2 separate regions of the Homo sapiens genome follow, and region 2 is linked to region 1. Evidence: fine-mapped expression QTL. A gene starts in region 1. The other region holds a variant in brackets. All regions are shown on one strand. Distances are between the middles of the regions.

What was found. PIP is the estimated chance that this variant, and not a neighbour inherited with it, causes the effect.
Region 2: its variant is the best candidate, but not a certain one, in a credible set for the expression of TMEM160 in monocytes (Fairfax 2014, PIP 0.67).

Annotation. Positions count from the first base shown.
Region 1 is chr19:47,046,297-47,051,669 of GRCh38, forward strand. It overlaps TMEM160 (transmembrane protein 160), which reads right to left and starts at 2,328. Exons shown (of 3, transcript NM_017854.2): 1 at 2,111-2,328; 2 at 297-389. The coding sequence starts at 2,318. RefSeq lists enhancers at 1,756-1,825, 2,335-2,629, 2,753-3,270, 3,271-3,788 and a silencer at 2,106-2,295.
Region 2 is chr19:47,161,278-47,166,650 of GRCh38, forward strand. All of the region lies in intron 5 of SAE1 (SUMO1 activating enzyme subunit 1), which reads left to right. It overlaps LOC124904730 (a long non-coding RNA gene), which reads left to right. Exons shown (of 2, transcript XR_007067277.1): 2 at 1-2,031. Among named protein-coding and RNA genes, the nearest start is that of SAE1, 33 kb to the left of the region's middle. The variant G/A (reference allele first, on the strand shown) is at 2,177.

The sequences.
Region 1 (5,373 bases):
GTCTGGGAGCAAAGCCAGGGTTGAGGAGACAGGAACAGAGGCAGGGCCGTGCCAGGGGCTAGCCTGCATCTTTGAGAATCAGATCGGAGGGGAGGGGACCATAACCATGTCCTGGGCCACCCATTCAGATGGACCTAGTGCCTATGGGAGGGGTGTCTTCTGGTGGGGGAAGAATGGGGGTTCTATACTTACTACTGGGAGTGGGATGGGGTAGGAGAGTCTACTCTCACCAGGGCAGGTGATAGGGGCTCTGCATTCCCTGGTTCCGTGGGGCGAGAGGGGGGGTCTGCACTCACCATATGCTGCTTCCCGACCCATGTCACTCTGCATGAAGGAGATGACCCCGATGCCCGATGCCAGGAGGCCATTGCGGAACCAGGAGAGGAAGGCTGGAGGGAGGGGGACATGGGGGGATTAACATCACCCCCAACCCTACCTCCTCAATCCCCCTTACCCAGTCAAACTGAGGGGCCTCCCTTCAGCTCACCCCATCCCATCCAGCCGCAAGGCAAGCCCATCCCAAATCCTCACCTCTTCCAGGAAGCCGCTCACCTAACCATATCCCCCCACATCCTCTCTGGCCTCCACCTCAGTGCCCCTCTCCCCCAAACTCTGTAACACTAAGGATTCAAGGGCCGGGTGTGGTGGCTCACCCCTGTAATCCCAGCACTTTGGGAGGCCAAGGCAGGCGGATCATGAGGTCAGGAGTTTGAGACCAGCCTGGCCAACATAGTCAAACCCTGTCTCTACTAAAAATGTTAAAATTAGCAGGGTGTGGTAGCACGTGCTTGTAGTCCCAGCTACTCAGGAAGCTGAGGGAGGAGAATCACTTGAATCCAGGAGGTAGAGGTTGCAGCGAGCCAAGATCATGCCACTGCACTCCAGCCTGGGCGACAGAGTGAGACTCCGTCTCAAAAAAAATAAAGGATTCAAGATAGTCCCTGCAGAATGTGGAGGACAATCTAGGGGCAAAGTTGCAGAACCTCCATCTGAGGAGTCATCTTGGCCAAACCCCTCCCTCTACGTGTACCCCCACGGCCTGCCCACTCACTTCTTTCTCAGAACTCTGGGACAAACTGTTTCCTAATCCAGGCCGCTCTTCAGCCTCGCCCTTCTTTTCCTTCAAATGCCGCCATCTCCTACCGAGTATGGCCTGGGCCAATCCCATCCATGTCCTACCGAGTATGGCCTGGGCCAATCCCACCCACGTCCGTCCCCATTCACGTCCTTTACAAACAGCCCACCACACCCTATATCTAGATGCCCGGTCCTGGCCTAGTGAGGTGACTCACACCTATAATCCCAGCACTTTGGGAAGCCAAGGCAGGAGGATTCTCTGAGCCCAAGAGTTCAGACCAGCCTGGGCAACAAAGCAAGACCCCGTCTCTACATAAATTAAAATAGTTGGGTGCGGTGGTGTATGCCTGTAGCTCCAGCTAAGCAGGAGGCTGAGGCAAGAGGATAGCTTGAGCCCAGGAGTTCAAGGCTGCAGTGGGCTACGATTGCGCCACTGCGGTCCAGCCTCGGTGACAGAGCAAGACACCGTCATTAAAAAAATAAAATTAAAAAAAAAACAAACATGGCCAGTCCGCTCCATTCTGGACCTCGCCTCCGTCACAAGCCCCGCCCTCTGCAGCCTAGATCACCTCCCCCTCCAATCAGCAGAGAGCTTTCTCCCGATTGGTTGTCCCCTTCTCCAATCCTGAACTTCCCCCTCTTCTGCGGGGATCCACACTCCCGCTCTCTGCACAGTGGTGGCCTCTGCAATCGGGATGGACCCATCTTGTACCCAACTCCACAGACCCTAAGCTCTCCCTGAAGCCCCTCTCCCCACGGCAGGCGCGATTCTACGAGGCTGCCTCGCGCAACCCTACCACCCCCTCCAATCCCTACGGCGCCCCGTTACCCGGGGTCCTCGTCCTCCCCGCAAGCCCATCCCCTCTGCGGGCACCTGCGCTCTTGCAGTCTGCGCTTCCGTGCGCTCACACTGAAGCCCTTCTCGGAGCCGAGCCCGGGCCCCGTTTCCTGCAGAAGCCCCCGCCCCATCAAGGTCCCACGCGAGCCCGGGACCCCCGTCCCATCCGCACCGCCCCCACCCCTAGCCACCGACCTGTCTCGTGCGCTTTTCGGAGGAGCCAGGCGTCCGCACGATCCAGCTCGGACACTGGGGGCGGCGAAGCCCCGGCGCGGGGACCGTGGCCGGGGGCGAAGGACCCCCGGGCGCCCCCGCTCCGGGGCCGCTGAGGCGGCAGTAGCGACCTCCGGAAGCGAAGACGGGCAAGGCGAGCGGCCCGAGCCCACCACCAGCCGCCTCCCATGATTCGCACTACGGCCGCCGCGCGCCGTACCGCCCCACCGGCCTCCGGTAGGTTGCAACCCATGTCACTCAGGATGAATGGCTTACCCATTGGCTATGCGCTCGCCACTCAGGTCCGGCGTGAACTGTCCATTGGTCGGAATGGCAGTGATTCCCTCCTCTGTCATCTAGGCCGGTAGTGCCCGTCCCTCCTTGATTTTGTACCGGACTACGAATCCCAGCGATCATTGCGCTCGGGGAAAGCCGATATTCAGAAGTCGCAGGCGAGATGTCTGCTGGGAATTGTAGTTTTAATTCTATCTTTTTTAACGGAGTACATGCCGAGCACCTATTGTAGTTGTTTCTTGGTTGTTTCTCTTTCTTTCTTTCTCTTTCTTTCTTTCTTTCTTTTTCTTTCTTTCTCTTTCTTTCTTTCCTTCTTTCTTTCTTTCTCTCTTTCTTTTTCCCTCCCTCCCTCCCTTCCCTCCCCTCCTTCCTTCCTTCCCTCCTTCCTTTTTTTTCCCCGCCCCGAGACCGAGTCTTGCTCTGTCGCCCAGGCTGGAGTGCAGTGGTGCGATCTCGGCTCACTGCAACCTCCACCTCCCGGGTTCAAGCGATTCTCCTGCGTCAGCCTCCTGAGTAGCTGGGATTATAGGCATGCGCCACCACGCCCAGCTAATTTTTGTATCTTTAGTAGAGACAGGGTTTCACCATGTTGGCCAGGCTGGTCTCGAACTCCTGACCTCAAGTGATCCAACCGCCTCGGCCTCCAAAAGTGCTGGGATTACAGGCGTGAGCCACCGTGCCCGGCCAGGTCTGTCTCTTTAAGACAGATTTGTTTTCTTTGCCCTAACCCATTCCGGGATTCAGCTTTGCCTTCTCTCATCAGCATAAACCTTTTCACTAGCCAGGAATGTGAAAAATGTGTCTGGAATATTTTCAATTTGCACTTAATCCCATTTAAAGCTTCACATTCATTGCAAGCCTGCAGGCTATGCAGTGCAGTCCATTTGAACTCCCTCCTCAAGTGTAACCCCCTTGCTAGCTCCCCTACTTTTCCTCTTCATAAAATCCAAGCCCGGGCCAGGCACGGTGGCTCACATCTGTAATCCCACCACTTTGGGAGTCTGAGGCGGGCAGATCACGAGATCAGGAGTTCGAGACCAGCCTGACCAACATGGTGAAACCCCATCTCTACTAAAAATACAAAAATTAGGCATGGTGGCAGGCACCTGTAATCCCAGCTACTTGTGAGGCTGAGGCAGGAGAATCGTTTCATGCGCGTCCATGTGAAGAGACCACCAAACAGGCTTTGTGTGAGCAAGATGGCTGTTTATTTCACCTGGCTGCAGGCAGGCTGAGTCCGAAAAGAGAGTCAGCAAAGGGTGGTGGATTATCATTAGTTCTTAGAGGTTTTGGGATAGGCGGTGAAGTTAAGAGCAATGTTTTGCGGGCAGGGGTGGATCTCACACAGTACATTCTCAAGGGTGGGGAGAATTACAAAGAACCTTCTTAAGGGTGGGGGAGATTACAAAGTACATTGATCAGTTAGGTGGGGCAGGAACAAATCACAATGGTGGAATGTCATCAGTTAAGGCTATTTTTACTTCTTTTGTGGATCTTCAGTTACTTCAGGCCATCTGGATGTATACGTGCAAGTCACAGGTGATGCGATGGCTTGGCTTGGGCTCAGAGGCCTGACATTTCTGCCTTCTTTTATTAATAAGAAAAATAAAACAAAATAGTGTTGAAGTCTTGGGGGGTGGTATGGAGAGAGAATGGGCGATGTTTCTCGGGGCTGCTTCAAGCAGGATTAGGGGCGGCGTGCGAACCTAAAGTGGGAGAGATTAAGCTGAAGGAAGATTTTGTGGTAAGGGGTGATATTGTGGGGTTGTTAGAAGAAACATTTGTTGTGTAGAAGTATTGGTGATGGCCTGGGTACAGTTTTGTATGAATTGAAAAACTAAATGGAATAAGAGAAGGAGAAAAACAGGTATAAAAGGTCTAAGAATTGGGAGGACCTAGGACATCTGATTAGAGAGTGCCTAAGGAGATTCAGCATAGTCCTGCCAGCAAAGATTATTTGTTTACTTCAGGAGTTAAGAGTGGCAGTTTGGGGATAGCATGAGGAGATATCAGCTGTGATGGCTTGGAGAAACAGTGTAAACCAGCAGTGTAAACAAGAGCAGGGCACGTATGAGTAGTTGAGAACGGAGAATAGGAGTATGACTAGACAGAAAATAGTAGGGATGACAAGTTTTTTTGGGGCACAGTCTAAGTTGGTCCGGTGTCTGGAATGAGACTGGGGCCTAATAAAAAGGATTGTCCATACAGGAGCTCAAATAGGCTGTACCCTGCAGCATTCTGAGAAGCAAAAGAGGTAAAAGTATTGTCCAGTCCTTTTTAAGTTGGTGGCTGAGCTTGGTGAGGTGTGTTTTTAAAAGACCTTTAGTCCGTTCTACTTTTCTTGAAGACAGAGGACCGTAAGGGATATAAAGGTTTCACTGAATACTAAGAGCCTGAAAAACTGCTTGGCTGATTTGACTAATAAAGGCTGGTCTGTTATCAGACTGTATAGAGGTGGGAAGGCTAAACTGAGGAATTATGTCTGACAGAAGGGAAGAAATGACTGCGGTGGCCTTCTCAGACCTTGTAGAAAAGGCCTGTACCTATCCAGTGAAAGTGTCTGCCTAGACTAAGAGGTATTTTGGTTTCCTGACTCGGGGCATGTTGAGTAAAGCTAATTTGCCAGTCCTGGGTGGGGGCAAATCCCTGAGCTTGATGTGTAGGGAAGGGAGGGGGCCTGAATAATCCCTGAGGAGTAGTAGAACAGCAGATGGAACACTGAGAAGTGATTTCCTTGAGGACAGATTTCCACGATGGAAAGGAAATGAGAGGTTCTAAGAGGCGGGCTCATGGCTTGTACTATAGCATAGCCTGCCTTTGCTGGTGTGTGGCGATTAGGCCTGGTGGAACTGCCATCAATAAATCAAGCGTGATCAGAGTGAGGAACAGGAAAGAAGGAAATATGGGGAAATGGGGTGAATATCAGGTGGATCAGAGAGATACAGTCATGG
Region 2 (5,373 bases), 110 kb after region 1:
TGAGATTATAGGCATGAGCCACCGTACCCAGCCTATATTTTTTTTATTGTGACATTTAATGCACAAAAGAAGATATGCAGCATCAATGCAGATAATGGAACAAAACAAACACTATCCGCCTTAAAAACACAAATATTTTTGGTACTTTTGTACCAATCTGTATGCTGTTTCTCTATCTTCTACTTCTTCTCCCTGTACCCTCACCAGGTAAGTAACCCCAGAGCTGCTGGTACATTTGTGTGGATTAAAAAAGACACCTGGAAGGGGCAGATACAGCCCTGCTTGACTTCCTGTTTTATCACGTGTTTATAAATCTAAACAATGACATGGAACTTATTATACAATATTTTAGGCATAAATTAAGAATGATTTCGCTCACCATCATAGACCTACCACTCAATTTGAAGCATCAAACATTACTGGTATGGTGAGGCCCTCTGGCTGTCCCTCCAACAGAAGTTACCACCCTCCTCAGTTGGGTTTCTCATTCCTATGCATTTCTTCTTACTACTTATGTATGTATTTCCAAGCAACACATAGAATTGCTTTGCATGCTTTTTATCTTCTTAAAAATTGGTTTTATATTGTATGCATGGTGCCACCTGCTTTTAAGGAGAAGCAACACGTTTGTGAGGCCATCTGTTTATATGTTGTTCTAGGGCTTTGCTGTCCATTTTGGTAGCCACTAGCCACAGCTGGCTGTTTAAATTAATTAAAATCAAATCAAATCAAATATTTAGTTCCTCAGTCTCACTGGTCACATTTCAAGTGGCCAGTAAGCACATGTGGCCATTGGCATCTGTATTGCATAGCACAGATTACATTCTGTTCCATCATCACAGCTAGTTCTCTTGGACAGCCCTGCAGGGCATTTCTTTTTGGTTTTTGTTTTGTTTTTATTTTTGTTTTTTGCTAGAGTCTTTGTTGTGTAAATACATTACTATTTTATATCCATTTTTCTATTTATAAGCATTTGGGTATGCTCATAATTTGCTGTTACAAATTGTGCTGCATAAGCATTTTGTTTGTGTGTGTATAGATGATCTCCTTGGGCAATTGTGTTAATTTCTCTTGGGTATATACCTGGGAGTAAAATTAAGATAAGGGCATTTTCAGCTTTACCAGACCCCGTTAAGTTACTCTCAAGTGGTTTTATCAATTTATATTCTAGAACCAACATTATGTATCAGTAACATTTGGTAACTTCAGGCGTTTTTTTTCCATTCTGCTGAGTGTGAAAAATGTGTTTTGATTATGGTTGTCATTTGTTAGAATACTTTGTTAAAGCTTTTTAAAGATTCTTGGTCCCTCTACCCTCCCCACCCCCTACCCCAGGAATTTTGATTGGGTAGGACCTGGGGATTATATTCATCTTTATATGCAGAATTATATTACTTGTTACTGTTAGGCCTGATTTAAGAAGTAAAATAAGGCTGGGTGCAGTGGCTCATGCCTGTAATCCCAGCACTTTGGGAAGCCAAAGTGGGCACATCACTTGAGCCCAGGAGTTTGAGACCAGCCTGGGCAATGTGGCTAAAACCCCTTCTCTACCAAAAATACAAAAATTAGCTGGGCGTGGTAGCACGTGCCAGTGGTCTCAGCTACTGGGGAAGCTGAGGCGGGAGGATTGCCTGAGCCTGGCAAGTGTAGGCAGCAGTGAGCTGAGATTGTGCCACTGTAGTACATCCTGGGTGACAGAGCAACACACTGTCTCAAAAAAAAATTTTTTTTTAAGTAAAATAAGTTCATAATTCCAAATGTGGAAAATGCAGAACAAGTTAATGAAATGTTAATCCTACTACCAAATGATAACTATAACCTTCCTTTCAGTATTTTTCTATGTATATACAACAAAATTGGGGCACTGTTTAATACAGATAATATATATAGTTAGCTCTCCTTATTAATGGGCTTCACATTCATGGATTCAACCAACTGTGGATCAAAAATCTTTAGTGTGCTTGGAGTACATCCAAAAAAAAAAAAAGAAAATTGAAATTATGTTAATAATAAAATATTTGGGAAAAAACATTGCGTCTATCTGTACCAAACATGTACAGACTTTTTTTCTTGTCATTATTCCCTAAGCAATACAATATAACAACTGTTTACATAGCAATTCCATTAGGTATTATAAGTAATCTAGAGATGATTTAAAGTATATGGGAGGCCAGGC[G/A]CAGTGCCTCACGCCTGAAATCCCAGCACTTTGGGAGGCCAAGGCGGGTGGATCACTTGAGGTCAGGAGTTGGAGACCAGCCTGGCCAACATGGTGAAACCCCATCTCTAACAGAAATACAAAATTAGCTGGGCATGGTGGCTCACACCTGTAATCCCAGCTACTCAGGAGGCTGAGGCAGGAGAATCACTTGAACTTGGGAGGCAGAGGTTGCAGTGAGCCAAGATCGCACCGTTGCACTCCAGCCTGGGCGACAGAGCAAGACTCTATCTCAAAAATAAATAAATAAATAAAGTATATGGGAGGATGCACGTAGAGTATATGCAAGTACTGTGCCATTTATTTATTTAGAGACAGAGTCTTGCTTTATTGCCCAGGCTGGAGCGCAGTGGCGTGATCTCCGTCTCCCAGGTTCAAGTGATCCTCTGGCCTCAGCCTCCCGAGTAGCTGGGATTACAGGCTTGTGCTACCACACCCGGCTAAGTTTTGTATTTTAAGTAGAGGGCGTTTTCACCTTGTTCGCCAGGCTGGTCTCGAACTCCTGACCTCAGGTGATCCGCCCACATCGGCCTCCCAAAGTTTTGGGATTACAGGCGTGAGCCATTGCACCTGGCTTGTATATGTGTATATATATGTACATGGTTTTGTCTTTTGCTTTTTTCACTCAATAAGCATTCCCCAAATCTGCTTTGGAGCACATGATTTTATTTTATTTTTATTTTTTTATTTTTTTGAGACGAAGTCTCGATCTGTCGCCCAGGCTGGAGTGCAGTGGCGCAATCTCGGCTCACTGCAAGCTCTGCCTCCTGGGTTCACGCCATTCTCCTGCCTCAGCCTCCCGAGTAGCTGGGACTACAGACACCCGCCACCACACCCGGCTAATTTTTTGTATTTTTAGTAGAGACGGGTTTCACCGTGTTAGCTAGGATGGTCTCCATCTGCTGACCTCGTGATCCGCCCGCCTTGGCCTCCCAAAGTGCTGGGATTACAGGCATGAGCCACCACGTCTGGCCTGGAGCGCGTGATTTTAAATGTCTGTGTCATTTTTCCTCTTCTTGCCTAGCCATAATCTATTTTACCAGTCACCTATTGTATTGAGGTTATTGAGGTTATTGCAGTTTCCTACTATGCTAAATGGCTCCTGACAACAAATTTGATGGTTGATGGGCTATGTGGAGAATTCACCTTTTTTTTTTTTTTTTTTTTTTTTTTTGAGACAGAGTCTTTCTCTGTCACCCAGGCGGGAGTGCAGTGGCATGATCTCAGCTCACTGCAACCTCTGCCTCCCAGGTTCAAGCGATTCTCCTGCCTCAGCCTCCTGAGTAGATGGAACTACAGGCACCTGCCACCACGCCCAGCTAATTTTATTTTTGTATTTTTAGTAGAGAGGGGGTTTCACCGTGTTAGCCAGGATGGTCTCGATCTCCTGACCTCGTGATCCGCCTGCCTCAGCCTCCCAAAGTGCTGGGATTACAGGCGTGAGCCACAGTGCCCGGCTAATTTTTGTATTTTTAGTAGAGACGGAGTTTCACCATATTGGCCAGGCTGGTCTCGAACTCCAGACCTTGTGATCCACTCACCTTGGCCTCCCAAAGTGCTGGGATTACAGGCATGAGCCAAGTCTTTTTTTTTTTTTTTTTTTTTTTTTGAGACGGAGTCTTGCTCTCTTGCCCAGGCTGGAGTACAGTGGTTTGATTGTGATCTCGGCTCACTGCAACCTCAGCCTCCTGGGTTCAAGCGATTCTCCTGTCTCAGCCTCCCAAGTAGCTGGGATTACAGGCACATGCCACCATGTCCGGCTAATTTTTATATTTTTAGTGGAGACGGGGTTTCACCATGTTGGCCAGGCTGGTCTCGAACTCCTGACCTCAGGTGGTCTACCCACCTTGGCCTCCCAAAGTGCTGGGATTATAGGTGTGAGCCACCGCACCCGGCCTTGTTATTAGTCTTAACTAGATTGTTGATTGAAGTCCTTAAGCCCAGAAATGTATGTGAAGGATGGTGGAGAAGAGTGGCTCAGGCATTCTAGGCAGAGGTATTCTTGAGCTGAGGAAGTGGAGGAGAGGAGGTATGTAAGTTACCTGTTTTCAGGGGTTCATTCCAGTGGATAGTGGATGCCACTCCCTGGCAGACACTGTGGGTGCCTCACCTGAAAGACTCCTGATTCCCTGAAGGCATTGTCGGGTGTATTTTTTCTTTATAAGCGTAATGCCAGTGGAGTGGGTAAGACAGGTACCACCTTTTGCATCTGCTGCTACAGATTAGGCAGCTTGGTTAAGTTTTGTTTTGTTTTTAATTGTTATGAGTTAGTTTGAACCAAAAGGATTGTTAAGTGGAGTGTAAGAAGCACTGAATAACTACTGTTATCTGAGAGGAGTAGTAAAGACCAGGGCCACTGGGCAATCCCAGAGGCATTAGGAATTTGTGGCCTTTCCCTTTAGAGCATTGTCATTATGTGTATCTGCATCTCTGCATTCCAACTTTCACATTTTCAGTTCCCAGGAGAGAGAATCTGATTGGCCTGGTTGGGGTCCTGTGCCCACTTCTGGCTGTCACCTGTGGCTTTCTTCCCTCAGTTGTAGACCACACTCTGGATACCTGGGACCCCTGAAATCTCCTGCCCAGACAACCCCAAGCTTCTCAGGACTTTTTGTGGGCTGCTTCCCTGTTCTGCCTGTGCAGTGCAGGCCTTGTCACAATGTCTGAATGCTTAGGCCAGAGACGTGGGGGTTTGGTGAGAAAGGATGAGCTGGGTAGCTACACTCAAGTGCAGAGCCACCAGTATTGTGGGACAGAGCCAGGCATGGGAAGAGAAGTGGGCACGGATGGGGGCCAGCTTTCCCGATGTGCCTTAATCTGGCACAGAACTCCTAAGGAGTGTGAAAATTTCAAATTTGATCCAGGCCTTCCAGGTGGTTATGAAGAAGGCGAGTTTGTCAAGACAGGATAATACAATATACTTCATTTAATAGCTTGTTAGTGTGATTTATAACTAAATATGTAGACATCATATATGGGTCTTCATTCATACTCTTGCCCCAGGCCCTGAAAGTGTTAGCTAACAGGCAAGACCTGCCTGGGACTGAGATTCTAAAACACAACCTCCACCCCCAACTCCGTTTCATCATATAGTAGCCTAACATATTAGTTGGTTCGTTGCTTATAGTCAGGCAAACAACAAAGACTCCGAATTGAGC